Homo sapiens: one gene and its partners. The protein of the gene in region 3 purifies or fractionates together with the protein of the main gene of each other region. This does not show direct contact. Each region holds a gene or a part of one and is shown on either strand. Other genes may lie near its edges. The genes, in order: IFFO1, FBXO38, ZNF331, CEP78, CTTNBP2NL, MRPL45 and CENPB.

Region 1 (3,500 bases), on a different chromosome or scaffold from region 3:
TCCCCTGCCTTGTGCGTGACCTTTTTTTGAGCCCCCATTTTCCCAACATAGGAATGGTCCCTGCTTTCTCTCTTCAACCCAGGGATACAGTTTTTTGGAAGAGAGATATTTGGTCCATGCAGAACACATGGATATCGCTCTCAAATTCTGCCCATGTTAAGGGAACCTTATAAGTGAGACCAGATGGAAATGGAGGTGAAAATGAACCTGTCTGTGTGAAGTCTGGCCAAAGAACAAATAGAACTGTAGTGGGCTTCCAGATGATTCATTTGTAGATTTTTTTTACCCTGTAAGATTTCCTTAGGCTTAACCTTTAGCTATAACTGCCTTACTTAAGTTTCTTCCAGGCTCTGTTGAGCTCACTGTCAGATAGCCCCTCCTGCCCTCTTTCACACATCTTGTCCAGGGTTAGCGTGCCCTTGACAGGCTTACTGTCTCCCTCCAGGGACTCGTGGGCTCCCGGCGCATGAGGGCACCACAGTTCATGCCTTCACATCATAGATGAAGAAACCAAGACCCAGAAAAGATAAGGGTCTTAGCTAAGAAAACATAATCTGATGCGACTGGTTCCCTTAGTGGCCTGACTGTATGCATGAGAATGCCAGGGAGGAGGGGAGAAGCACCTACGGGACACACAGGGAAGGGGGCTGGGAGCCAGGAAGGCTGGGAGCTGGGCTGTGTGGGGAGCCAGCAGGGTGGTGGCTGGGCTGGCTGCCTCCTCCTGCTCTGCCCAGCAGGGAGGGGCAGTCGAGGTGATGTGGAGGAGTTATTATTAGGAATACTGCAGTGCGGCTGTGAATGAGGAGATGGGACCCAGAGGCTGACACAGGAAGGAAGATGGAGGGAAGGGGAAGAAAGGGCTTCACCCAAGGCTTCAGAAGCTGCCCACTCAGATTTTAATTTTCTTGCTGTCTTCTTGGCCCCTTCCTAACCACCTTTCTTGTGTTGAAGTTTCTCTCTTGGTGCAGTTCCCCTCCCTTCTCGGGTTGACAGAAGTGATGAGCTCACAGGAACAGGATTTGAGATGTGCTGCTACGCCAGCTAGACTGCAGGGCCCTGGAATGCCGGGCGGGTCCTAAGCAGCACGTTGCCCTGGCTTCCATCTCTGTGATGGAATAGAATATGCACTGCCTGCCATGGCTGATGAGACATGACAAAGCTGGCTCTGGGAAGCATGCCCTACCTAGGACCCTGCCCTGTGGCCCAGGGTGTCGTCCGGCCCACTTGCAGTCTTAATCTCTGAATTCTGGGCCCTGGAACAGGCTGTGTCTAGTTCTCATTTGCCGTACTCACCGGGCCCCTTTACATACTCTACTTTCTCTTTCCCTCTGGGTTTGAGTGCTAGTAACCCCAGGCTCGTGTGTCCACTGCTGTCATGCTGCTGTGGGACTTCCGGCCTCTGAGCCAGTCTGGTCACCTCTCTGTGACTCCCTTAGAGGAGGCTCTGGGTGGGTAGTTTCTGGAGCTAGTGGGGAAGGACTTTGAGTGTCTCCTACCAGGCTCTTGACCCACTCTGTTGATACACTATGTGTCCTGCAGATGCTTTTACAGGGTTAAATGATACCACAAGAGGCAGGGCAGCGGGCTCGACGAGCTCTGTTCTGGTGCGGGCAGGAGGCGGGAGCCCGGATCTGTGCGACTGAAGGTGGGAGACTGGGCCGGGTGGACCTGGTGGTCTGGTGTGGGCAGGAGGTGGGCAATGAGGCCAGCCGGACAGCTGGCTGAGCTGGGGCCTGAGCAGGGATGGGCATCACGGAGGACCGGAGCCTCAGCACTTGCCCAAACAGAGCTCCTGGTGCACAGCCCGGAGGTTCCGGGAAGGCAGCTGGCGAGCTCGACGCCCATCAGGAAGCACAGAGCCGCGTGACAGCTGCAGTTGGTCACCAGCTGGCTGGCCAGGCATTCCTGTGCCCTGCTCCTCCCCATCCAGGGAACCAGAACTGGGGTCTGAGGCCTGAGCCAGAGAGGTGGGGACAGGGAGCCATGGGGGCAGGGAAGGACTCTGTACCTAAGCTCTCTCCGCCCTTCCCATGTCTGTCAGGTGGGAAGAGGAGTACACGGTGCGGATCCAGCTGCAAGACCGTGTAAATGAGCTCCAGGAGGTGAGGGTGGCGCCCCACTTGCTGCTGGTGCTTCCCTGGGTACCCCTGTCTGCCCATGACCCTGCTGCCGTCTCCCTGTCCCTCCTTGGCATCTTTATCTTCCTCCCACCTCGGCAGTGCCACCAACATCAGGGTTTCTCCCAACTGCAGGAAGCCCAGGAGGCTGATGCCTGCCAGGAGGAGCTGGCACTGAAGGTGGAACAGTTGAAGGCTGAGCTGGTGGTCTTCAAGGGGCTCATGAGTAACGTGAGTGCAGCCCCAGGCTTCCCGAGGGTCGAAGTGAGGCTTCTGAGGCCAGAAGAGTAGGCCCTTCTAGTGTTGGCCTGTTGGCCTCCCGTCCACGGCTCCTCCCCTTCTCTTTGCTTTCCTTCCCTTTTTCCCCTAGCCACCCCTAACTCCAGAGAAAGACAAGCAACAAAAGTCTCGGTGTTGCGTCACAGAGGTGGCGCAGCTTCTGAGGGCCTGGGGTTGCAGAGCAGTTAGTGAGCAGCTTCTGGGGTGGAGGCTCTGCAGCTGGCGCCGGGGCGCTGGGCCGATTCCTCAGCCTCTGAGGCCTCACCTTTGGCGTGGGGAAATAAACGCGTGCGCTCTGCAGGAGTATTGTGAGGGTGGTCATGTACTCGGGACAGTGCCCAGCATGCAGTGTTAGCTGGAAGAGTGTTAGCTGTTGCGATTATTATAGTCCTTTCTCCACTCTTATAATTCCCAGGAGTCTCTTTCTCTCTGGGAATGTAAGTTCTAGGAGGATGAGGACCGCTAGTCGTTCCAGTGAGCCCCCTGCATGTCCCAGGCACTGGCCATGCCCTCCAGGGCTTCCGTTTGGCCAGGGAGCAGTGGCCCGAGCCGCCCCATGCCCAGCATATTCACACAGTGCTGTGGGGAGGCCACCGCTACCCAGGAAGAGGGGTGCAGTCAGCTCAGGGAGACTCCACAGAAGAGGCACCGGTGCAATGTGGTGGGAAGGATGAGGACCTTGCCAGGCCTAATTCGTCCTTGTCTGGAGAACTGGGCGCCTCCTCACTGTTCCCTGGGCTCCCTGGACAGAACCTGTCGGAGCTGGACACCAAGATCCAGGAGAAAGCCATGAAGGTGGATATGGACATCTGCCGCCGCATCGACATCACCGCCAAGCTCTGCGATGTGGCTCAGCAGCGCAACTGCGAGGACATGATCCAGATGTTCCAGGTGAGGACGGAGCTGCCCTCTGCTCTCAGGGGTGGGTGGGGCAGGTGGATGCTTCCGTGGCGGCTGGCCTGGAACGCAGGCCCTGCCTCCTGCTTGGGGAGCCTTACCTGGCAACTGGGGCCCTCACGGGGCTAGACTGGGGGGTAAGGAGCAGCATCAGGAGGGGCATCGTGGAAGCTGTCTCTAACGCCGTCTCTCCCTTCCCCCTCTCTC
Region 2 (3,500 bases), on a different chromosome or scaffold from region 3:
AGTACTTTGCATTAGATCCTTTCTTGCGCAAAAAGTAACTGTTAGGCCTGTGCTTTTTTTTAAGGACCCAGTGGTCTTCAGCGTGTAGTAAAACCAACCTCAATTACTGTTCATGATTCAGAGAGTGATGATGAAGAAGATAGTCTAGAACTCCAAGAAGTCTGGATTCCTAAGAACGGTACTCGGCGTTACTCTGAACGTGAAGAAAAAACTGGAGAGTCAGTGCAGTCCAGAGAATTGTCAGGTGAGAAATTGTCTTTCTCTGAACTATTAATGAGAGTCACTATCAGAACTGACACACTTGGCCTTAATATGACAACTTGGGTGCAGTTAACATATATTACGGAATGTGACAGGAAGCAAGAAATGCACTTGCCCAAGTAAGGGAAATCTGGGTGGTGCTCTTGTAGGCAATACAACACAACAGTGTTGTGGAATGAGGGCTCAGGGAAGAAGAGAAGTAAGGATTATAAGTCTACAGTGGAGGCTTCAGTTGTGGCATCAGGGTGTCAGAGATTAGTGAGCGAAAAGCCTGTGCCTTATGTAAGGGATGACTGCTGAGTCATCCAGAGCAATGAAAAGCAACCATTCCCCAGTTGATAATCTGTCCAGTTGTGCTTAATGAATATTGGTGGCTAGTTTGGTGCTGGAAGGAGTCCTAAAGCATATTTTTATAATCCCTCACATCCCTTTAAATCTAGGCAACAACCCTCTGCAGTGCCTCACCAAGAAACTGTACTTCTCTCTTAACTTTGAAGTTCATACTTCTTCCTTGTCTTTCCTTCCCTTTGGTTTCGCAGAACCACGTGCTTACCACTTTTAGCAAAAGATGGATATTTTGCAAATTGTGCAGTCATTTTTCCTTGGGTACCCTTACTCCTTAATATTTTTGAATGTTCAAAACACATTTAACACTGACCCTGGAACATTTATGTAGTACTATTATCTGGAAAGTTTAGTTCTTTGGACTTGAAATAATTTGCTAATCATTGACTCATTATTCAATTTTTATTTCTTTTAAGAAATTCAGATAACTTTATAATGTGGTTGAAAGAAGGTTTTATGGAAACTGAAATTTAGGAAAAGTAATATGACCAGCTGACTAACCTACCTTCCCAGACAGTGCAGTTTCTAAATTTAGCAACTAAATCCTCTGTTGGCCAGACAAAACCTATTTATTCCTTTATATCTTCATTGAGCCTTACTATGCCCCAGGTACTGTGTTAGGCACTGTGAGGGATACAGAGATGAGTAAGTCATGGTCTGTCTTTACAGAAGTTCTAGTCTAGTTGAAGAGTCATGTCAAAAACAATAGGTAGTAATATTACAGGGCATATACTACAACTACAGTTGCTTTGGGGTGGGGGTGCAGAAGAGATGGAGTAGAGGACCAGGGAGGACCACAGCTGACAAATTGGTGAGAACAAAGCCCCTGAGGTAGTAAAGCAGGGGTATTTTGAGAGAAAAGCTGGAGCTGGAATGTAGAATGTATATGGAGGGTACGACATGGAAAGATGGTTTGGAATCAGATCATAGTGAGGTTTGAAGGCATAGCTAAGGAGTATAAACCAGATAGACACTAGGGAGCCATAGAGAATTTTATAGCAGCTCAGTGATGTGATCACAGTTATACTTTAGGAAAATTAGTGTTTAGTATACATTATTTCCTGTTCCAAATTTACTCTTGCGTTTTGTCCAGAATTTATACTGAAATCTTTTCTTTTCCTCGGGCCGTTCTTCTTTTTCTATAAGCAGTAAGTGGAAAAGGCAAGACTCCACTTCGAAAGAGGTACAACTCCCATCAGATGGGCCAGTCGAAGCAGTTTCCCCTCGAGGAAAGCAGCTGTGAGAAAGGCTGTCAGGTCACCAGTGAGCAGATCAAAGCCGATATGAAAGCAGCTAGGGATATTCCTGAAAAGAAAAAAAACAAGGATGTTTATCCCAGCTGCAGCAGCACCACCGCCAGCACAGTGGGAAACTCCAGCTCACACAACACTGCTTCTCAAAGCCCCGACTTTGTAAGGACGGTGAACAGCGGCGGCTCTTCCGAGCCTAGCCCTACAGAAGTGGATGTGTCCAGGCAGTGTGCCTGCTCCCCCGGTGGGTCAGAGGACTCTGAGGCCATGGAGGAGGGAGATGCAGAGAGTTCTGTCTGCCCCAGATGCTGCTGTCACAGGCCCCAGGAATCCCAAAGGAGAACTAGCAGGTGTTCTGATGAGGAACGTCCTTCAACCAGCCGAGCCTGTGTTGTGAATGGCCCGGATGGTACGAGATCCGCCTTTTCCTTTAGGACTCTGCCACAAGGGGGGTCTTCAGGCCCAGCACATGATGAGAGGACTAATGGGAGTGGCTCTGGGGCTACAGGTGAGGACAGGAGGGGGAGCTCCCAGCCTGAGAGTTGTGACGTGCAGTCTAATGAAGACTACCCTCGGAGGCCCCTAACCAGGGCCAGGAGCAGACTGTCCCATGTACTGCTGGTATCTGAGTCAGGTATGACAATGCTCCTAGGATTAGCAACTGCAGGGTAGGGCTGCAGAAAGGCATGAACTTGTTTCATGAGTTTTCTTACAAAAAGCCAGTTTGGCAAATTAAATTCTATTTTGGGGTTTTGTGGGTCATGTGAATTTTGAACTAATTTCAGCAATGGTTTGGAGGGTGGGTGTGTAAAACAGTTTATAAAATGTCCAACCTGGAAAGCTCAAAATAGTTCAGCTTTTAAGGAAAATGTCATTGTGTATATTTACCCTAAATATAACACTGACTGACACCTAAGCCCCAGTAGATGAACTCTGCTGCCATCACACACTTAGAGAAGTCTTAACTTAGGAAAGTTTTAAACTCAGCCAAAAGGCAAGGACTTGACGTTGCTGGGGCTGGGGGAACACATCTCAGTGCAGCTTCCTGTGTATACCCCTCTTTCTGTCTCTGCAGTACTTAGTAATTTTTTCAGAAATCTAGTTTTGCTTCAAGTAAGATTTGCCAGGAGATAAGCAGGTAAGTAAATGGTTTGGCTGAGAATTATTTTGGTGAAAATACTCAAAACATATATGTGTATTTAATTTCATTAATGTTTATAATGTGTAGCCATGGATTGGGTGTAAGCATATTTATTAATCATAAGTCTGTTACTGTTTCTGACCTTATTTTTAAGTACTCTTTCCTGCCTTTATTATATCATTACTGCCTGACAGTGATAATAATGTATTTTAATTTTCTTCAAGTAGCCCTCAGTTTTAAAATCTTAAAATCAGTCCCAGAACATAGGCAGTCAGTGCTTTTTGTATATTCAAAATAGAACTAATGGATTCATACAGAGCTAAACAGAACAAAAGTAAGCTTTCATGAGATACATTTGAGACCTTAGTTATGTGCTAGTTACCATAGTTGCATAAACTCATTGAAATATATGAGTTTTATTTGAAGACTTTTTTATGCTTTGCAAACAGTGGTTCTGCCATATGGTGAAAGTACTTTTCCCAGCTTAAATTGTAAATGTTTGA
Region 3 (4,268 bases):
ATCACCTGAGGTCGGGAGTTCGAGTCCAGCCTGACCAACATAGAGAAACCCCGTCTCTTCTAAAAATACAAAAAAAATTAGCCGGGCGTGGTAGCGCATGCCTGTCATCCCAGCTACTGGGGAGGCTGACGCAGGAGAACCCCTTGAACCCAGGAGGCGGAGGTTGCAGTGAGCCGAGATCGCACCATTGCACTTGAGCCTGGGCAACAAGAGCGAAACTCCGTCTCAAAACAAACAAACAAACAAACAAAAAATTATTCTCTGGAAATTCTGGGTAACGTCAGTGGATTACATCAATGTTAATCTTCTGGTTGTGGTATTATATACTACAATCACCAGCTGAGGTAACCAGGTGAAAGGTACACAAGATCTCTCAATTTTATTTCTTGTAACTACATATGAATCTAAAGTCTATCTAATTAAAAGAGAAAAAGATTTTCAGAAAAAAAGCATTTTGTGAACATACTTCAACATTGTGTACAACTATAGCTACTTCCTTGGCATAAATACCAAAAAGTGGGATTTTGAGTCAAAATGAGACTGTGGTTAAGTACCTGCAACATCCTGTAGACCCTGTGACGTTAGTACTTGGAATGAGAGCGGGACTCACGGGGCATAACTGCTACCTGTACATTGTTTACAATGCAGCAAGCAAGGGACACCGAATAGCAGCTCCGGCAGCCTGTGCTAGCGGCCTGCAGAGAATTCCAGGTGACGCTCCAGAGGGGCTAGGAGAGGATACCCTTCTGAGGACAGCCATGGCTCGCCCGGCATCACCCCACTCAAGAGGCCAGACGGGGTCCCAGCTGGGGTGACACAGCTCCTTTCCCAGTCGGGAAGGGGCGTCTGCAGGGACCAGGAAGGGCTTAGCTTGGGGCTGCCCGCTCCGGCACCGACCTGGGACGCGCCCTGAGGCCCCTGCCTGGGACCGTCCCGGACTACATTTCCCAGAGACCATCCAGGAGTACGCCGTGCTGCATGCTGGAACACGGGGCTTGGGGCTCTGGTTTCCCCCGACGGCCCCGCGTCCTCTTCTAGCCTCACCCTCTCCCGAGGCCCCAGCGTTGGGGGACTACCGGGTGCGTCTGCGGCTTTGGGAGAGTGGGAGGAGGGAAAGGGATGGGAGGGGTGCACGCACACGTGTCAGTGTGTCCGCGTGTCAGCATCTGTGCAGGCGCACGTGTGTGTCGGGCTCTGTTGTGTCTGCACATGCGTGTCGGCATCTGTGCGTGCGCACACGCCCGTCAGGGTCTGTGTGCCCGCACAGGCACGTCAACAGCTGAGCACGCTATGTATCGGGGGTCTGTGTACGCTCACATACGTGTCGGGGTCTGGGTACGTGCACATACGTGTAGGGGTCTGTGTGCACATGCGTGTCGGGCTCTGCTGCTGTCTGCGCGCTGCGGCCGCTGGGTGCGCGTGCGCATGCGCGCTGGCCTCCAGGGGGTGGCGGGACCGAGTGTGTGACGCACTTGCGTGGGAGTACGAGGCTGACGCGGCGGCCCTGTCCCCGTAACTGTGACACGGGTGCACGCGAGCGTCATTGGGGGCGATGGGGGCCGTGCTGGGTGCGCGTTTGCACCAGTGACGCAGCCGCTGCATCTCCGCCAGTCCGCGCAGGTGAGATTGGTGCGCGTGGCTCCGAGGGGAGACGGGCACGGGGCTTCTGACGGTGACGCACTTGCTGGAGAGTGTGGGGTGACACAGCCGGGCTCTCCCCATAACTGGTGACCGGGGGTGCTCCAGAGGCTTTGGGTCAACGCAGCCCGTGCCTGTGAACCTCGGCGGTGCGTCCCTGGGACTCTGCTCCGTGAGGTGCGCTCTGGGGGTTGTGCGGGGGCAGCGGTCGGGACGGGTCTCCGTGGCCCACGGATGCACCTCTGCACCGTGTGGGGTGGTGGGGCCCGTAGCATGGCCGTGCTGGGCGTTAGTGGGTATGAGGGGCGCAGATGTGTCTCAGGACAGAGTGAGCTGTGGTGAGGCTGAGCTGTGCAGACTTGTGCTGGGATGGGTGATCGGGCCTTCTGGGTGACGCAGGTGTGTGTGACAACACAACCTGTAGCTTCAGCGTCTCTGTGCTGGGATGGATGATCGGGCCTTCTGAGTGATGCAGGTGTGTGTGACAGTGCAACTTGTAGCTCCAGCGTCTCTGCTGCTTCCCCTGCCTTCACCTCCTAACCAAGCGGTACCTGCCTGAGAACAAGGGCCGCGGAGGGACGTGAGCGCCTGAGCCTCGCCTGGAAATTCACCAGCAAGAAGGCAGAAACAGCCATGAGGTGACGCTTTCAGAGCCAGAAGTGCTGTGCATGCAGGCCACCTGAGTGACAGGGGACGGTGGCCTCAGGAGTAGAATTCCTCCTGTAGAGGGACAGGTCCCTGATGTGGGAGACAGGGAGGGGGGCAGCTCCACGCGTCATCATCTCAATCGCCACAGCGTGCTCTTCAGGAATCTCCCAGAAACTCCATCTCGGGGCCTCGTATTTCTCATTGGTTTTATTAGGTATGGCAGGTGTTACCCTTCCGGTTCTGTTTTCCCCAGGCCAGCATCCTTCAGAAAAAGCATCCCCGAGGAGGAAGACGAATCGTTAAACATCTGAAAGGGTCAGGTGAGTATCCTTTTTTTTTTATATTAAATGATATGTGTTTATAAGACTTAAGACCAAACATTAAAGGTAGATGACCAAGATTTGAGTCCTGTTTCTGCCTCTTAGCTTTTTGAGCCTTCTGAAGATAGGCTTGTGAGGAGGGTGAAATGCATTAACACGCATAAAACCCATAGACGCGCACCCCTGAGTGGGAGTGCACAGTGAGTGCTGCTGTTTTGTGCTAAGTCTGGATGTCTGTACATCAGGAGCAACGTACATATGAAGGTAACTGGGATGGGTGTTTGCAGGTTCACAAAATGAACCACAGCCTCAAATGGCCTAGAACTGTTATCCTTAACCTGAGGGCCTGCCTTTAACTCCACTTACAACTTTCCAAGGGACATTCTGTGTATATTTACTGTATGTGATTATCAGTGTTAGTGTATCTGTCCCCCACCACCACCACCCTAAGGAGATACTCTGTAATTTCATGGCATTAAGAAGGATGGACATGCCCCAAAGACATTTAGACCCATTGGTCTACAATCGAAGGCTGTGTACCTTGACCACAATTATTGTTCAGGATGGTGGAAATGGTTAAGTAATTATACCACGTTCATTTCATGGAATACTCTGCAGCTACAAAGAAGTAAGTTTAGTTATAACCGTAAGAAAGAAAAATGCACCTGACATAATATTAAACACTACTAATAGTTATTAACAATAGTAAATGAAGGAAATGCTTCAGTTGCCTACAAATTCCATTGAATAAGATTTTTGTAAATACCTTATCCAACATGACATTTTAGTATATTATTTAGGATTATTCATGAATCCTTCAAAAGAGAGGAGCCTGGCCACATTTATTGAGCGCATTTTTGTACCATACTCTATTGTGTTTTGCACACACTCCTTAATTTATTCTTACCTTAGTCTGTAACAAAGTACCATAGACCGGTGGCTGAAACCACAAACATTTATTGCTCACAGTTCTGGAGGCTGGAAGTCTGAGAAGAGGGTACCAGCATGGTCAGGTTCTGATGAGGGCCCTTTTCCAGGTTGGAGACTGTCACCATCTTGCTGTGTCCTCTCACGGAGGACATGTGTGTGCTTGGAGGCTCTTTGGCAGAGCTCTAGGAGGTGTGTGTGCTTGGAGGCTCTAGGAGATAGTCTTTTTTTTTCTGTAATTGAGATGGAGGCTTGCTCTGTTGCCCATGCTGGAGCGCAGTGGCACAATCTTGGCTCACTGCAACCTCCACCTCCCAGATTCAAGTGATTCTCCCGCCTCAGCCTCCCGAGTAGCTGGGATTACAGGCACATGTCACCATCCGCAGCTAATTTTTGTATTTTTAGTGGAAACAGGGTTTCTCCTTGTTGATCAGGCTGGTCTCGAACTCCTGACCTCAGGTGATTAATTAGCCGGCCTCAGCCTCCCAAAGTGCGGGATTACAGGTGTGAGCCACCGAGCCTGCCCTGTGGGAGGTATTTTATGTCCTTGCTTTTGCTGGCTTCTAGACACTGCCCCACATGCCTTGGTTTGTGACCCCTTCTTCCATCATCAAAGCTGCAAAGACAGGCCAAGTCCCTTTTCCATCACGTCACTCTGACCCTACTTCTTTCTGTTCATCTCACCCTCTTCTCATTTTGAGGACCCTGGTGATTACATTAGGCCCGCTGAGGTAA
Region 4 (3,500 bases), on a different chromosome or scaffold from region 3:
TTTAAGTGGGAAGGTAAGTCAACAGAGTAGAGGTGATATATCCAAGTGATAGACTGTTTCATTGCCAGTAGCAGTATAAAATCTTAGAAATCTTTTGGAAAGCAATTTGGATGTAAGTATTGCAGAGCCTTAAAAATGTTTATTTGCTTTGACCTAAAATTCCTTTTTTATTTATTGCAAGAAAATTATTCTAAATATGGGAGAACAAAACCTTCATGCTTAAAAGTGGTTATTTTATCTTATAATGTTGAAAGTTGGAAACAGTCTTGTTAGCCATAAAGGAATGATTACATGAACCAGTAAGCTGGCTCAGTAGAATATTTTATTTAGCCCACTAAAAAAGTCAAAGTTGGCCAGGTGCGGTGGCTCACGCCTGTAATCCCAGCACTTTGGGAGGCCAAGGCAGGTGGATCATGAGTTCAGGAGATCGAGACCATCCTGGCTAACATGGTGAAACCCTGTCTCTACTAAAAATACAAAAAATTAGCTGTGCGTGGTGGCGGACACCTGTAGTCCCAGCTACTCAGGAGGCTGAAGCAGGAGAATGGTGTGAACCTGGGAGGTGGAGCTTGCAGTGAGCCGAGATCAGGCCACTGTACTCCAGCCTAGGCGACAGAGCGAGACTCCATCTCAAAAAAAAAAAAAAAAAAAGTCAGAGTTATGAGTTCTCTGATTCAGTGTTAAATGGAAGAATGTCTAACATAAAATTGGATATACAGTCTTCCCTCAGCATACTCGGGTTATTCCATGACCCCATCCTCCAGCATATACCCAAATCCATGCAGGCATGCTCAGGCCCCACAGTTGACCTGTGGAACCAGGGTATATAAAAAGTCAGTCCTCCTTATGAACTTTTGCGTTGGAGAATACTTGTTTTTGTTTGTTTGTTTGTTTTGAGATGGAGTCTCGCTCTGTTGCCAGGCTGGAGTGCAGTGGCGCAATCTCAGCTCACTGCAACCTCTGCCTCCCGGGTTCAAGTGATTCTCCTGCCTCCGCCTCCCGAGTAGCTGGGATTACAGGTGCGCACCACCACACCCAGCTAATTTTTATATTTTTAGTAGAGACGGGGTTTCACCATGTTGGCCTCAATTTCCTGACCTTGTGATCTGCCTGCCTCGGCCTCCCAAAGTGCTGGGATTACAGGCATGAGCCACCGTGCTCAGCCAGAATACTGTATTTTTGATCTGCATTTGGTTGAAAAAAATCTGCATATAATGGGCCTGCATACTTCAAGCCCTTGATATTCAAGGGTTGTTGTACAGGATAACATTTGATATTTCTGGGGTTGTGTTCCAGAAAAAATATAAACTTTTCCATGGGTAGAAGGGAGAAAGGGGAGCAGCTGTCAGGGAGGAAAATTACTACAACACTTTATCATTAGTCGTTTTTAAGTAGTGGAATGTTAAGTGATTTTACTTTCTAATTGTTTCATTTCATATTTCCTTATTTTCTTTAAGGAGCATGAATTACTCTTTAAAGGAGTAATGAGGAGGGAACTTTCATAAATATGTAACATTATGTTCTCACTTCCTCCACTAGAGGGAGAAACAATTTCATGTAATTGTGCTTTGATGTGATTTTTAGAACTAGTTAGGAATGGAGGATTTTATTCTTCTTTCTCCAATTGTGATAAGTTTTTTGCTTATTTCCATGTTTGGTTAGAAGTTCTTTGATAACAGTTCTAAATATTAAAACCATTATATAAATAATAAGTAGAGGAATTTTGCAATTTCTTTTTCCTTTTTCCCATAAAAACTTGGTTGGCTTTAACTGATAATGAAACATTAAAGAATTTGTAGTTATTAGGGCATTTACTGATTTTTCAAATGTGTTCTGAGTATAAAAATATATGCCCTTTGAGAAAATTTTTGAAAATCGTGAAAAACATTGAGGGAAATAAAAACCACCTCTGCATGGTACACACACCTGGATATTTTGTAATTTGCCCTTTTATCTTAAAAAGATATCAAAATATTTTGTCACATCATTGAATGCTCTTCCACATCAGAGAATCTTACTTAGCTTATGGACCATCTCCCAAGAAAAACGACCATTCATTAACTCTGGTTAAGACCCATATCATTGTTTTTAGTGGCTCCATAGAGCATTTCATCATAGGGATGTGCTATTTTTTTTTTTTTTTTTACCAATCACAATTTGGAGGCTTTTAGTTGTAAACAGTCCTGTGACATTATGTTGGTAGATAAATCTTTGTCCACATGTTTGGTGATTTCCTTAAGGTAAATTCCCAGACATTGAATTGGTAGTATTTACTAAAGATTACTCCAGAAAGTGGCACCAATTTCCTTTTCTAATGTAAGTGTATGGTAGAGTTCCTTCCCTCAACACTCTGGAGGAATTGGAGAATCTCCATCATGTCTAATTCCTTTTGTATTTCAATCTTTACCAGAAAGAGCCCTGTCCCTTTTAATTGGTTACTTGACTTTTAATTTGCTGTTACATAATTCAGGTGTGTTAAGTGTGTTAATAGGGCTTCCTATTATAAGGGATCCACAAATAAGAATAGAATTTCTTTTTCATAGCCTTAATTTTTATTTGACTCAATAAATATATGTGTATGCCTTCTATGGTGAGCTGTCATAAATTTATTTTGGAAAGAGTGGAAATAAATCTGTAATGTGCGAATCTGATGTTTTTGGTAATTAATTTCCCTAGCATGGTATGATATTATACAAGCAGTAGGCTATAATCCTGATATCTGAGTTCACTTCTGGCTCTGTCCCTAAACACTTGGTGAGCTCAACAGCTGGAAGAGTTTTGGGGATCATATTGGGAATTAATTATAATATTTACTTTATTACTTAATACTAGGAAAAACTGGAGGAGTGCCTAAAGCAGTTAAAGGAAGAAAGAGTGATAAGGCTTAAGGTTGATAAACGAGTCAGTGAGGTAAATAAAAGTTTTCTTACCTTTTGAGAGTTTTTTGTTTTGGTTTTGGTTTAACTTTAAGTCATACATACACACACTTTATAAACTTTAAAATGAGAAAATATAGTGTATTGCAAATGGTCACAGTATGTTAATGTTTGTATTTACTTATATTTGGTGACCGTGTGATCTGTATTCCAAAAAGCATGTTTTTTAAAAATGTAAAAATTGTAGTTTGTTTTCTTTTCCTCTGTTTTTATATGACTGGAGCTTATTTTCTGTTCATGATGCATCAATTCAAGAATGCATTTATTAGGCTTATACTGTATATACAATTGCGTAAAAGATGGGGATGAGACTATCTACTGAAGGGGAATTAGGAAAATGAATAAATAAGGTAAAAGATAATGGAAAACCGGTAAGAATGCAATGAAAGATAAAAATCTATACCATGAGGACTAAATTAGGTGAATGTGCATAAGAGCAGGGCATAAACTAGAAAGTTCTACATAACTATAATTTATTATTACAAAGCAAGTTTAAGGAGGAATTTTTGAAAGTATATGCATTGGTTTGAAAGACAGTTAATCATTCAATAAAGGTTGAGCACC
Region 5 (3,500 bases), on a different chromosome or scaffold from region 3:
TTTTTACACAAATATAGCCTGTTTTAATTGTCTTCCCAACCCTATTTGAGGCAGAGACTCTGCGTGAGAGGGAAAGGGTTGAAGAAACTCAGTGTTTTTCAAACTCTGAGATCCATTAATGGATGGGGAAACTAACTGAGCCACGACTAGAATTTTAAAAAAATATATAAACAGAAAACATCAATGTGTACTGTAGCAGTAGGGGTTATATATGATTTCATGAGATTTTTGTTTCAGGCGTAACTGTGTATGTCTACATATACTGGGTTGTGACATAAAATGTCACTTCTTACTGGGGGTTCTAAGTCAAAAGTTTGAGAGCTACAAGCGCTAAGTTACCATTCCCCAAAGAGTGTTCTACGGAACAATAATAATCCCACAGTGAGGGATCTATGCCAATAAAAGATTTTATAAAACCATGGATTTGCTAAACACAGAATACCCTATCTTGTTCTTGAAGACTCACAATGTGCTTCTGCATACTAAAGATCCTAACAAAGTTAGAAACCTGTTTAACTTTGCTTAATCCAGTAGTTCCTAAACTTATTTGACCACAAAGCCCCTTTTCTGAACAATACCAGTTGGCATCCTGCAGAATAATCTTTGGGAAATGCTGTTCCAGGCAAATGCTACTGTGAATCCCTCTACCTTAATTACCTGTTGAGTCAGCCTCTCTCTTTCCTTCTCTAGCATGTAGGTGACATCATCTCCTTCAGCCGTATCCTGTGCATGCCGCTGCCTTTCTTCCTCAAGGTCTAGGATCACCTTTAAAGAATTTTTTAAATTTCATTTTCAAATATCAAGGAGTCACATTTATTAATACAACCAATAATAAGTGCCAAATCAGGCACCTTAGATAGTTCCAGAGATCAAACAAACAAACGAATAAATGAAACCCAGCAAGGGCTATCAAGGAGCACACTGCCTTACAGTGAAAGACATGAAAGCTCTGTGTTAAACAGTAAGATACTTACTTTACTTGAAGTATGTAGAGAATGATATGCAAACAGAGAGAAGAGAGCAACTAATTAGCTAGAGGGGTTGAGGAGGTGTCGAGAATTAACAGAAATTCCAAGAAACTGCAGGCAGTTTGGTGTTACTAGGGGCCAGGTGTAGGTGATGGAGCAAGACAGGACCACAGAAACCTGAAAGCTGAGATTTTCTTCTCAATTCTCAAATCACCAGAGGCACCAAAGAAGGAGCCTGAAATTCAACATTTCAAATAGGTGACATTCTAAGTGTGCCTTGTTTAACTAATAATATACATTTTTATATAGTTAGATAAGAGGTGGATAGACTCTCTTGACTTCCTACTGCATGTAAAAAGGCTCAAATATAGAGACCTTAAATGGAGATTTTTCATACGCCCTTTTATTTAACTTGCCTACCCCTATTTCACTTACCCTGGTGCCAAAGGATTAAGCCCAATTTTAAGGAGAAGACAAATATATTTATTTTTCGAGACAGGGTCTTGCTTTGTCACCCAGGCTGGACTGTAGTAGTGCAATCATGGCTCACTGCTGCCTTGGCCTCCCGAGCTCAAGAGATTCTCCCACCTCTCAGCCTCCCAAGTAGCTGGGACTACAGGTGTGCGCCACCACGCCCAGCTGATTTTAGTATTTTTTGTAGAGATGGGGTTTTGCCATCTTGCCCAGGCTGGTCTGGAACTCCTGGGCTCAAGTGATCCACCCGCCTCAGCCTCCCAAAATGCTGGGATTACAGGTGTGAGCCATCACACATGGCCAAGAATACAAATTTAAAGAGACATTTTTCACATAATCCCATCTACAACTGCAAATATTCTGATTGCTTAGTAGCTTCTGCTCATGCTTCAGAAGTGCCTTGGCCCAGACCTCCAGGGTAGAGCACTCTTGTCCCAAAGGCCATTTCTTAGTCTTCTCACTAAAAATTTTTATGAGTGAAGAGAGTAAATTTTCTGGGACATGAAACCTGTCTATAAAAATAAAAATGAGCTCATGCCTGTAATCCCAGCACTTTTGGGAGGCAGAGGCAGGAGGATTGCTTGAGCACAGGAGTTTGAGACCAGCCATTTATTTCTCCCTCTCCCTCTCCCTCCCCCACCCCCTTCCTTCCTTTTGAGGAGACAGGGTCTTACTCTCACCCAAGCTGAAATGCAGTGGCATCATCTCGGCTCACTGCAATCTTTGCCTCCTAGGCTCAAGTGATCCTCCCACCTCAGCCTCCTGAGCAGCTGAGACTACAGGCATACACCACTATGGCCTGCTGATTTTTTGTAGAAATGGGGTGTCGCCATGTTGCCCAGGCTGGTCTCAAACACCTGGACTCAAGTGGTCCTTCTGCCTCAGCTTCCCAAAGTGATGGGATTACAGGTGTGACCCACTGTGCCCAACCCAAAACCCCATTTCTACAAAAAAGTACAAAAATTAGCCAGGCATGGTGAGGTGTGCATGTAGTCCCAGCTACTCAGGAGGCTGAGGTGGAAGGATCACCTCAGCCCAGGGAGGTCGAGGTTGCAGTGAGCCATGATTATGCCGTTGCACTCCAGCCCAGGCAACGGAGTGAGACTTTGTCTCAAAAAAAAAAAAAGAGGCCAGGAGTGGTGGCTCATGCCTGTAATCTCAGCACTTTGGGAGGCCAAAGCAGGTGGATCACCTGAGGTTGGGAGTTCGAGACCAGCCTGACCAACATGGAGAAACCCTGTCTCTACTAAAAATACAAAATTAGCCAGGCATGGTGGCACATGCCTGTAATCCCAGCTACTCGGGAGGCTGAGGCAGGAGAATCGCTTGAACCCAGTAGGCAGAGGTTGTGGTGAGCCAAGATTGTGCCATTGCACTCCAGCCTGAGCAACAAGAGTGAAACTCTGTCTAAAAAAAAAAAAAAAAAAAAAAAAAAAGAAGAGACTGGTGCTGTGGTGTATGCTTGTAGTCCCAGATACTAGGGAGGCTGAGGTGGATCACTGGAGCCCAAGAGTTCCAGGCTATAGGGTGCTATGATCGCACCTGTTAATAGCCACTGTACTCCCGCCCAGGCAACACAGCGAGACCCTGTCTCTCAAAATAAATGAAAGAAAAAAAATTTGGCACATTTCCTTTTTTTAATCTAATTTTTCAATTTAATAGAAAGACATGCTTTTGGCCAAAAGTGGTAAGTCTTATCTTCTCCCTTTTGGGAGTCCTCAAAAATTACAGAAATGGAATAAAAAGACTAAAACCCCACAAAGGAGAGAGCCTCTAGCAGAGAAAAAATTTTAATAATATTTTGAAGAAGAAAAGAGGCTGGAGTTGTGGTAACTACTTTACTTTGAAGGAGGGAAGCTGTTTTGCCTTGCAGAGCCCCAAAGAGATGGAACCTGGAGGTGGCAGGTACTGCAGAGGAGAGGTGAAATGTAGAATAGAAAACAGGAGAACTGGCTCAAAGCCTGTTTTTTTGTTTGTTTGTTTTGTGTTTTTTTTTTTTTTTTTGAGACAGTCTTGCTCTGTCACCCAAGCTGGATTACAGTGGTGTGATCTCAGCTC
Region 6 (3,928 bases), on a different chromosome or scaffold from region 3:
TTTACACTACTGAATTTACCAGGGTGATCCCAACATCACGAATCCTTTAACAACTTAACATGAAGCAGCACGTAGCAGTTACCTGCATGGGTTCTGGAATTAGACTGCTTAGATTCAAATCTCGGTTCTGCCAGTTATCATCTATCTAACCTTAAGTAAATTACGTAATTGCTCTGTGACTCCTTTCCGAAATGACAAATCACAAATGTTTTTGTCAATTCACGTGTCTTCTGCTTTAGTAAACATAGTAGAAGACAGTAGTCAATCTCTTTTTTTGTTTTTTTTTGAGACAAAGTCTTTCTCTGTCACCGACGCTGGAGTGCAGTGGCGGGATCTCGGATCACTGCAGCCTCCGCCTCCTGTGTTCGAGGGATTCTCCTGCCTTAGCCTCCCAAGTAGCTCAGACTACAGCCGCCTGCCACCAAGCCCGGCGCTCTCTTGCTGGCGCATGACAACCGTGCGTTCCACCCTACGACTAATTTTTTTTTTTTTTTTTTAGACGGAGTCTAGCTCTGGCTGGAGTCAGTGGCGCGATCTCGGCTCACTGCAACCTCTGCCTCCTGGGTTCAAGCGATTCTCCTGCCTCAGCCTTACAAGCAGCTGGGACTACAGGCGTGTGCCACCACGCCCGGCTAATTTTTGTATTTTTAGTAGAGACGGGGTTTCGTCATTTTGGCCAGGCTGGTCTCGAACTCCTGACTTCAGGTGATCCACCGGTCTCGGCCTCCCAAAGTGCTGGGATTACAGGCGTGAGCCACCGCGCCCGGCCTCCTTTTCCTTTTTTAACTAATGGAATAAACGGCAATGTGCCAAGCATACAGCAATGCCCATTCCCCGGCCTTCAGAAAGCCTCGGGCGCAGGCGCAGCTCGCGTTCAAGCGCTCTCTCGCTGGCGGGGGACAACAGTTCGTTCCACCCTACGCCCAACGTTGTCTCCCTGCGCACGCGCGGCCGTACTCCGCCCTCCTTACTCCACCCTCCCCCACTCCCGCGAGCACGTGCGCGTCCTCGCTGCTCACATTTCGGCGGAGGGCGCGCTCCCTGGAAAATTCCACTCCTGTGCTAGCTCCACCCTATGCGGCTTTTCTCCTACCCGACGCTCTTCACTCTCAGCTCCCTTCCCGGCGGCCTTTGCGGGAACAAGATGGCAGCCCCCATACCTCAAGGGTTCTCTTGTTTATCGAGGTTTTTGGGCTGGTGGTCTCGGCAGGTGGGTAGGGACGGGGCCGATAGGACCCTAGGGGCTACAGGAGAGGACAGAGTCGAGGGAAATACTCTCTGTGCAATTGTCCTTGGTGAGCTGGGACAATACGAGTCATACCTAGGCCGGGGAAGAGGCTTAGGTGGACAGGACCTAGCTGCGGAGCTCAGTGGTCGAATGGGGATAGCCTAGACAGGGCCATGAGAGCGAGTGAATTAACGGATATTAAGTTTTTCCGGATTGGTTTGGGTCTGTCTGGCGAGGAGATATTAAAGGAGAGACAAGTAATGGGTTGGAAGGTGGACTCCCTAATCTTCGATTCTTATAAGTGAACTACGTTGAAGAGTAGCCGAAAATGAGGGCGTCCCATATTGTCACTGCCCCGTCTGAGCAAACCTCATGATCAGAGAGAAAAGATCTCCTGATCTTTCGAGGGTTTATTGGTCAGTTGGGTGCTAAAACGACAGAATAAAGTTTACAGCGAGACTCCCGATAGGATGAGCAAAATATCACGAGTACATATGGAGCAGATGCCTACAAGAGGACTTTGCTTATGCTTTAAGCATAGCATTCAGGGCCCGGCGCGGTGGTTCACACTTGTAATCCCAGCACTTTGAAAGTCCGAGGCAGAAGGATGGCTTGAGCCCAGGAGTTCGAAATGAGCCTGGGCAACATATAAGACCTGGTCTTTACAAAAAAATTTTAAAATTAGCCAGATGCGATGGCGCACTCCTTAGTCCCAGCTACTTGGGAGGCTGCGGTGGGAGGATAGCTAGAGCCCAGGAGGTCAAGGCTGCAGTGAACCGTGATCGTGCCATCGCACTCTAGGCTAGCGATCTGCCTCAAAAAATAATAAAGAATAGTATTCTGCCCATTTCAGTATTGAGTTGGTGTTTCCCCATCACCATCAGTTTTTGAAACTTGCTTTGATCAACTCAGTATCCGTAGGAGTTAGCATAGTCCTGTACTGTGGGAAGTTCTAAAGGAAAGCCTTTAGTAAATGTGATGTTAATAAAGGTTGCTAACTGTCTTCTATTTAGAGACACCCATAAGTATTAAGGTCCTAATGCATTTTTTCCCTGTGATATTGTTTTATAATTGTTCCTGAAGCATTCTTTGGATATTCCCTCTCTATAGTGCTTTGCTTAGAGTTTGTAAAAGATAGTAGATCTTTTTTCTAGGTTCCTAACCTTTCCTTTACCTTCCAGCCAGTTCTGGTGACTCAGTCCGCAGCTATAGTTCCAGTAAGAACTAAAAAACGTTTCACACCTCCTATTTATCAACCTAAATTTAAAACAGAAAAGGAGTTTATGCAACATGCCCGGAAAGCAGGATTGGTTATTCCTCCAGAAAAATCGGACCGTTCCATACATCTGGCCTGTACAGGTGAGGTATTTCTGGGACCCTGACCTGGGATCCTTCTGTCAGAGATCTTCTGGAACTTGGGATGACTTGGACTATGATTGATAATATTTAATTAAGCACGAAGTCAGTTCAACCTCAATAATGATTAACCTTATATACACTATATATCATGAAGTTGTTCTTTGAACTTACTTTCACACTGTCCCTAGAAGGCAAGAGTGAAATTTCTCCATTTTGTGGAAGTAGAAACTGAGGCTCTGAGAGAAGACTTAAATCTTTCTGGCTTTTTTTGTTTTGTTTTGTTTTGTTTTTTGAGACAGAGTCTCGTTCTGTCGCCCAGTGGCACAATCTGGGCTCACTGCAACCTCTGCCCCCCTGGGTTCAAGCGATTCTCCTACCTCAGCCTTCCAAGTAGCTGGGATTACAGGCACCTGCCACCATGCCCGGCTAATTTTTGTATTTTTAGTAGAGATGGGGTTTCACCATCTTGGCCAGGCTGGTCTTGAATTCCTGACTTTGTGATCCGCCCGCCTCGGCCTCCCAAAGTACTGGGATTACAGGTGTGAGCCACTGTGCCCGGCCTTGTTTTGTTTTTTTCTAGTGTAACATAGTTCTCTCTACATGGAAGTCTGTTTCATTAGTCTACTTCATATCCACAATCCTTCCCAATTTTACATTACTTCAATTTTATGAGTTTTTCTCAATCTTTCAACACTTTCTTAATTTTTTTCTTCCTTTATTACAGCTGGTATATTTGATGCCTATGTTCCTCCTGAGGGTGATGCACGCATATCATCTCTTTCAAAGGAGGGACTGATAGAGAGAACTGAACGAATGAAGAAGACTATGGCATCACAAGTGTCGTAGGTGTCTGAGACAATTGGGTATTGGTATTAGAATAACAATTTTTTGTTGCTACTTTATCCCAAAGAGACCTTTTTGGGTTAATTGGGTTGGGTGTCATTCTCTTAATAACATGATGGTATTTTCTCCTTTGTACTAGAGTCTGTATTTAATGCAGAATAATGTGGGCTTCCTGATTCTCAGCATCCCTGCCTTTATTGGTAATTTTTGTCATATCAGTTAGGGAGTTGACTTTGGAGTGTATAGGATCCTTTTTTAATCATATATTTAATTTTTTTTTTTTTGAGATGGAGTTTCGCTCTTGTTGCCCAGACTAGAATGCAATGGCACGATCTTGGCTCACCGCAACCTCCGCCTCCTGGATTCAAATGATCCTCCTGCCTCAGCCTCCTGAGTAGCTGGGATTACAGGCATGTGCCACCATGCCCGGCTAATTTTGTATTTTTAGTAGAGATGTGGTTTCTCCATGTTGGTCTGTTGGTCAGGCTGGTCTTGAAC
Region 7 (4,285 bases), on a different chromosome or scaffold from region 3:
CACAGTAGCCTGGTTTTTCTCCTGCTTCAGGGGCTCCTCCACTTCAAGAGTCTCTATTTGGTTCTTTCTTTCTTTCTTTCTTTTTTTTTGAGATGGAGTCTCACTCTTTTGCCCAGGCTGGAGTGCAGTGGCATGATCTTGGCTCCCTGCAACCTCTGCCTCCCAGGCTCAAGCGATTCTCCTGCCTCAGCCTCCCGAATAGCTGGGACTACAGGTGAGTGCCACCACACTTGGCTAATTTTTTGTATTTTTAGTAGAGACGGAGTTTCACTATATTGGCCAGGCTGGTCTTGAACTCCTGATCTCAAGTGGTCCCGCCTGCTTCGGCCTCCTAAAGTGCTGGGATTACAGACGTGAGCCACTGCACCTGGCCTCTTTCTTGAGCCCTTAACCTTGGAGGACCCAGGGCACTGTCCTTGGTCCTCTTTTCTTCTTTGTCTACACTCACCCACAGCTTCATCCAGCCCCAGGTCCTCAGCCTGTCCCCCTGGGTCACAGCCTTCCCCTCTGCCAATGCTGGAGTTCCCCTTAGTGCTGCCCTAAGAGATTTTTAAAAACACAGCTATACATTCATTGTTTTAAGAGCTTGGCATTTTAATGTTTTGCTGCAGGAGAGGGAGGCTTCAGGGATTCACACTTATGTATATACATGATGTTATTTCTGTAAGTGCAAACACATACATTTATGGCTATATGCATGGAAAAGCCCAGAAAGTGACACACCAAGATGTTATGAGTGTTTATCTATGGGTTGTGGGATTACTAGAACTTTAAAAATGTCATTAGCACCATCAAATAGATTTACAACTGTAATGCTGATTTTAAAAATAACTTAAGTGTGTAACAATAGGTTACATACGCTAGTGTTCATTCATAGCTGGAATGCTACACAATCATTAAAAAGCGTGTTGGCAATGATACTTACCGATATGGCAAAATTCTCACTACTTGATGCCAGGTAAAACAGCAGGAGATGCCAGATATACAGTCTATACAGTCTGATGCCAGTTTTATATAATAAATTTTTAAAAAGAAAACGACATGCATCTAGAGAAAAGACTGGAAGGAAATGTATCAAAATGTTACCTGTGCATCTCTCCAGGTGACGTGAAAAGCGTTTTTCAACTTCTTGAATTTTTCAGGTTCCGCAAAAAAAAAAGTGCGTTATTTTTACCTTAATTAAAAAAAAAAAAAACAAACAAAAACCCTGGTTCTTATTCTTTTTGAGCAGCAAGTCGCTGTCCGCCGGGCGCAGTAGCGATGCACCGCGTCCCCGCCCGCGTCGCTGCCGGGTCGCCGGAGGCCGCAGCACGGGCAGGTCCAGCAGGCCGCAGCGCCCCCCCGCGGTATGTCCCGGCGGCGGGAAGGGGGTGGGCGCGGAGGGCGGGGAGGAGGCGCCGGGCGTCCCCGCGCTTCCCGCGAGATCCCGCTCCGCCCGCTCCGCCCCGCTCGCCGCGCTCCCAGCTCCCCGCGCCGCGGCACTTCCTGCCTTCCGCGCCCGCGCCGCCCGCCCTCGTCTGCGCCCGTCGCCTGCCGCCCGCCGCCCGGCGACGCGCCCGCCGGCGTCCCCGGAGGTGCCCCCGGCCCGGCCGGGTCGTCGCCCCGCCGCCGCGCCCGCGAGCCGCTTTGTCTCGGGCGGGGCGCGCGGGAGAGGCCGCCAGGTGCCCCCCGCCACGGGCCCGGGCCCCCCGCCCCGGGGCGGCGGCGGCGGCGCCGGGCCCCGGGGCGGGGGGCGCGCCGGGATGGGCCCCAAGAGGCGACAGCTGACGTTCCGGGAGAAGTCACGGATCATCCAGGAGGTGGAGGAGAATCCGGACCTGCGCAAGGGCGAGATCGCGCGGCGCTTCAACATCCCGCCGTCCACGCTGAGCACGATCCTGAAGAACAAGCGCGCCATCCTGGCGTCGGAGCGCAAGTACGGGGTGGCCTCCACCTGCCGCAAGACCAACAAGCTGTCTCCCTACGACAAGCTCGAGGGCTTGCTCATCGCCTGGTTCCAGCAGATCCGCGCCGCCGGCCTGCCGGTCAAGGGCATCATCCTCAAGGAGAAGGCGCTGCGCATAGCCGAGGAGCTGGGCATGGACGACTTCACCGCCTCCAACGGCTGGCTGGACCGCTTCCGCCGGCGCCACGGCGTGGTGTCCTGCAGCGGCGTGGCCCGCGCCCGCGCGCGAAACGCTGCCCCCCGCACCCCGGCGGCGCCTGCCAGTCCGGCCGCGGTGCCCTCGGAGGGCAGTGGCGGGAGCACTACTGGTTGGCGCGCTCGGGAGGAGCAGCCGCCGTCGGTGGCCGAGGGCTACGCCTCGCAGGACGTGTTCAGCGCCACCGAGACCAGTCTATGGTACGACTTCCTGCCCGACCAGGCCGCGGGGCTGTGCGGAGGCGACGGACGGCCGCGTCAAGCCACCCAGCGCCTGAGCGTCCTGCTATGCGCCAATGCCGACGGCAGCGAGAAGCTGCCCCCGCTGGTGGCCGGCAAGTCGGCCAAGCCCCGCGCAGGCCAAGCCGGCCTGCCCTGCGACTACACCGCCAACTCCAAGGGTGGTGTCACCACCCAGGCCCTGGCCAAGTACTTGAAGGCCTTGGACACCCGAATGGCTGCAGAGTCTCGCCGGGTCCTGCTGTTGGCCGGCCGCTTGGCTGCCCAGTCCTTGGACACCTCGGGCCTGCGGCATGTGCAGCTGGCCTTCTTCCCTCCCGGCACCGTGCATCCGCTGGAGAGGGGAGTGGTCCAGCAGGTGAAGGGCCACTACCGCCAGGCCATGCTGCTCAAGGCCATGGCCGCGCTAGAGGGCCAGGATCCCTCAGGCCTGCAGCTGGGTCTCACGGAGGCCCTGCACTTTGTGGCTGCCGCCTGGCAGGCAGTGGAGCCTTCGGACATAGCCGCCTGCTTTCGTGAGGCTGGCTTTGGGGGTGGCCCTAATGCCACCATCACCACTTCCCTCAAGAGTGAGGGAGAGGAAGAGGAGGAGGAGGAGGAAGAAGAGGAGGAGGAAGAGGGTGAAGGAGAGGAAGAGGAGGAGGAAGGGGAGGAGGAGGAGGAGGAAGGGGGGGAAGGAGAGGAATTGGGGGAGGAAGAGGAGGTGGAGGAGGAGGGTGATGTTGATAGTGATGAAGAAGAGGAGGAAGATGAGGAGAGCTCCTCGGAGGGCTTGGAGGCTGAGGACTGGGCCCAGGGAGTAGTGGAGGCCGGTGGCAGCTTCGGGGCTTATGGTGCCCAGGAGGAAGCCCAGTGCCCTACTCTGCATTTCCTGGAAGGTGGGGAGGACTCTGATTCAGACAGTGAGGAAGAGGACGATGAGGAAGAGGATGATGAAGATGAAGACGACGATGATGATGAGGAGGATGGTGATGAGGTGCCTGTACCCAGCTTTGGGGAGGCCATGGCTTACTTTGCCATGGTCAAGAGGTACCTGACCTCCTTCCCCATTGATGACCGCGTGCAGAGCCACATCCTCCACTTGGAACACGATCTGGTTCATGTGACCAGGAAGAACCACGCCAGGCAGGCGGGAGTTCGAGGTCTTGGACATCAAAGCTGAGTCACTGGACCTAGCTGTGCCCCCAACCTAGATTGGCAGCACCACCCCAGGGCAGAGGACTCTCTGGGCACCCGCTGTGCATGGAGCCAGAGTGCAGAGCCCCAGATCCTTTAGTAATGCTTCCCCTGGTCCTGCAACAGGCCCGGTCACCTCGGCCGGGCCCGGGGCTGAGGTCAGCCTCACTGCCTGCTTATTGCCTCTTTCTCAGAATCCTCTTTCCTCCCCATTTGGCCCTGGGCTCAGGGGACCAGGTGGGGCGGGTGGGGAGCTGTCCGGTGCTACCACACCGTGCCCTCAGTGGACTAACCACAGCAGCAGCCAGGGATGGGCCCTGGAGGTTCCCGGCCGGAGAGTGCCTCTCCCCTCTGCCATCCACGTCAGGTCTTTGGTGGGGGGACCCCAAAGCCATTCTGGGAAGGGCTCCAGAAGAAGGTCCAGCCTAGGCCCCCTGCAAGGCTGGCAGCCCCCACCCCCACCCCCCAGGCCGCCTTGAGAAGCACAGTTTAACTCACTGCGGGCTCCTGAGCCTGCTTCTGCCTGCTTTCCACCTCCCCAGTCCCTTTCTCTGGCCCTGTCCATGTGACTTTGGCCCTTGGTTTTCTTTCCAGATTGGAGGTTTCCAAGAGGCCCCCCACCGTGGAAGTAACCAAGGGCGCTTCCTTGTGGGCAGCTGCAGGCCCCATGCCTCTCCTCCCTCTCTGGCAGGGCCCCATCCTGGGCAGAGGGGCCTGGGGCTGGGCCCA

What was found.
Region 1: the proteins of ZNF331 (region 3) and IFFO1 purify together in Homo sapiens (affinity purification with mass spectrometry; 2 studies listed by BioGRID and IntAct, with this or other methods). This does not show direct contact.
Region 2: the proteins of ZNF331 (region 3) and FBXO38 purify together in Homo sapiens (affinity purification with mass spectrometry; 2 studies listed by BioGRID and IntAct, with this or other methods). This does not show direct contact.
Region 4: the proteins of ZNF331 (region 3) and CEP78 purify together in Homo sapiens (co-immunoprecipitation; 3 studies listed by BioGRID and IntAct, with this or other methods). This does not show direct contact.
Region 5: the proteins of ZNF331 (region 3) and CTTNBP2NL purify together in Homo sapiens (affinity purification with mass spectrometry; 2 studies listed by BioGRID and IntAct, with this or other methods). This does not show direct contact.
Region 6: the proteins of ZNF331 (region 3) and MRPL45 purify together in Homo sapiens (affinity purification with mass spectrometry, with the first as the bait; one large-scale study listed by BioGRID). This does not show direct contact.
Region 7: the proteins of ZNF331 (region 3) and CENPB purify together in Homo sapiens (affinity purification with mass spectrometry; 2 studies listed by BioGRID and IntAct, with this or other methods). This does not show direct contact.

What each region holds. Positions count from the first base shown.
Region 1 is NC_000012.12:6,549,543-6,553,042, reverse strand, and holds part of IFFO1 (non-homologous end joining factor IFFO1), read left to right. Parts: intron 1-1,539; exon of another isoform or gene 1,540-1,645; intron 1,646-2,041; coding exon 2,042-2,102; intron 2,103-2,252; coding exon 2,253-2,348; intron 2,349-3,146; coding exon 3,147-3,287; intron 3,288-3,500. UniProt on the Homo sapiens protein: Nuclear matrix protein involved in the immobilization of broken DNA ends and the suppression of chromosome translocation during DNA double-strand breaks (DSBs).
Region 2 is NC_000005.10:148,425,458-148,428,957, forward strand, and holds part of FBXO38 (F-box only protein 38), read left to right. Parts: intron 1-64; coding exon 65-244; intron 245-1,755; coding exon 1,756-2,490; intron 2,491-3,500. UniProt on the Homo sapiens protein: Substrate recognition component of a SCF (SKP1-CUL1-F-box protein) E3 ubiquitin-protein ligase complex which mediates the ubiquitination and subsequent proteasomal degradation of PDCD1/PD-1, thereby regulating T-cells-mediated immunity.
Region 3 is NC_000019.10:53,536,677-53,540,944, forward strand, and holds the start of ZNF331 (zinc finger protein 331), read left to right. Parts: upstream 1-1,468; 5' UTR 1,469-1,620; exon of another isoform or gene 1,621-2,276; intron 2,277-2,539; 5' UTR 2,540-2,606; intron 2,607-4,268. UniProt on the Homo sapiens protein: May be involved in transcriptional regulation. May play a role in spermatogenesis.
Region 4 is NC_000009.12:78,260,075-78,263,574, forward strand, and holds part of CEP78 (centrosomal protein of 78 kDa), read left to right. Parts: intron 1-2,832; coding exon 2,833-2,910; intron 2,911-3,500. UniProt on the Homo sapiens protein: Centriole wall protein that localizes to mature centrioles and regulates centriole and cilia biogenesis. Involved in centrosome duplication: required for efficient PLK4 centrosomal localization and PLK4-induced overduplication of centrioles.
Region 5 is NC_000001.11:112,451,714-112,455,213, reverse strand, and holds part of CTTNBP2NL (CTTNBP2 N-terminal-like protein), read right to left. Parts: intron 766-3,500; coding exon 658-765; intron 1-657. UniProt on the Homo sapiens protein: Regulates lamellipodial actin dynamics in a CTTN-dependent manner. Associates with core striatin-interacting phosphatase and kinase (STRIPAK) complex to form CTTNBP2NL-STRIPAK complexes.
Region 6 is NC_000017.11:38,296,040-38,299,967, forward strand, and holds the start of MRPL45 (large ribosomal subunit protein mL45), read left to right. Parts: upstream 1-1,128; 5' UTR 1,129-1,144; coding exon 1,145-1,210; intron 1,211-2,409; coding exon 2,410-2,587; intron 2,588-3,311; coding exon 3,312-3,429; intron 3,430-3,928.
Region 7 is NC_000020.11:3,783,941-3,788,225, reverse strand, and holds the start of CENPB (major centromere autoantigen B), read left to right. Parts: upstream 1-1,485; 5' UTR 1,486-1,742; coding exon 1,743-3,542; 3' UTR 3,543-4,285. UniProt on the Homo sapiens protein: Interacts with centromeric heterochromatin in chromosomes and binds to a specific 17 bp subset of alphoid satellite DNA, called the CENP-B box.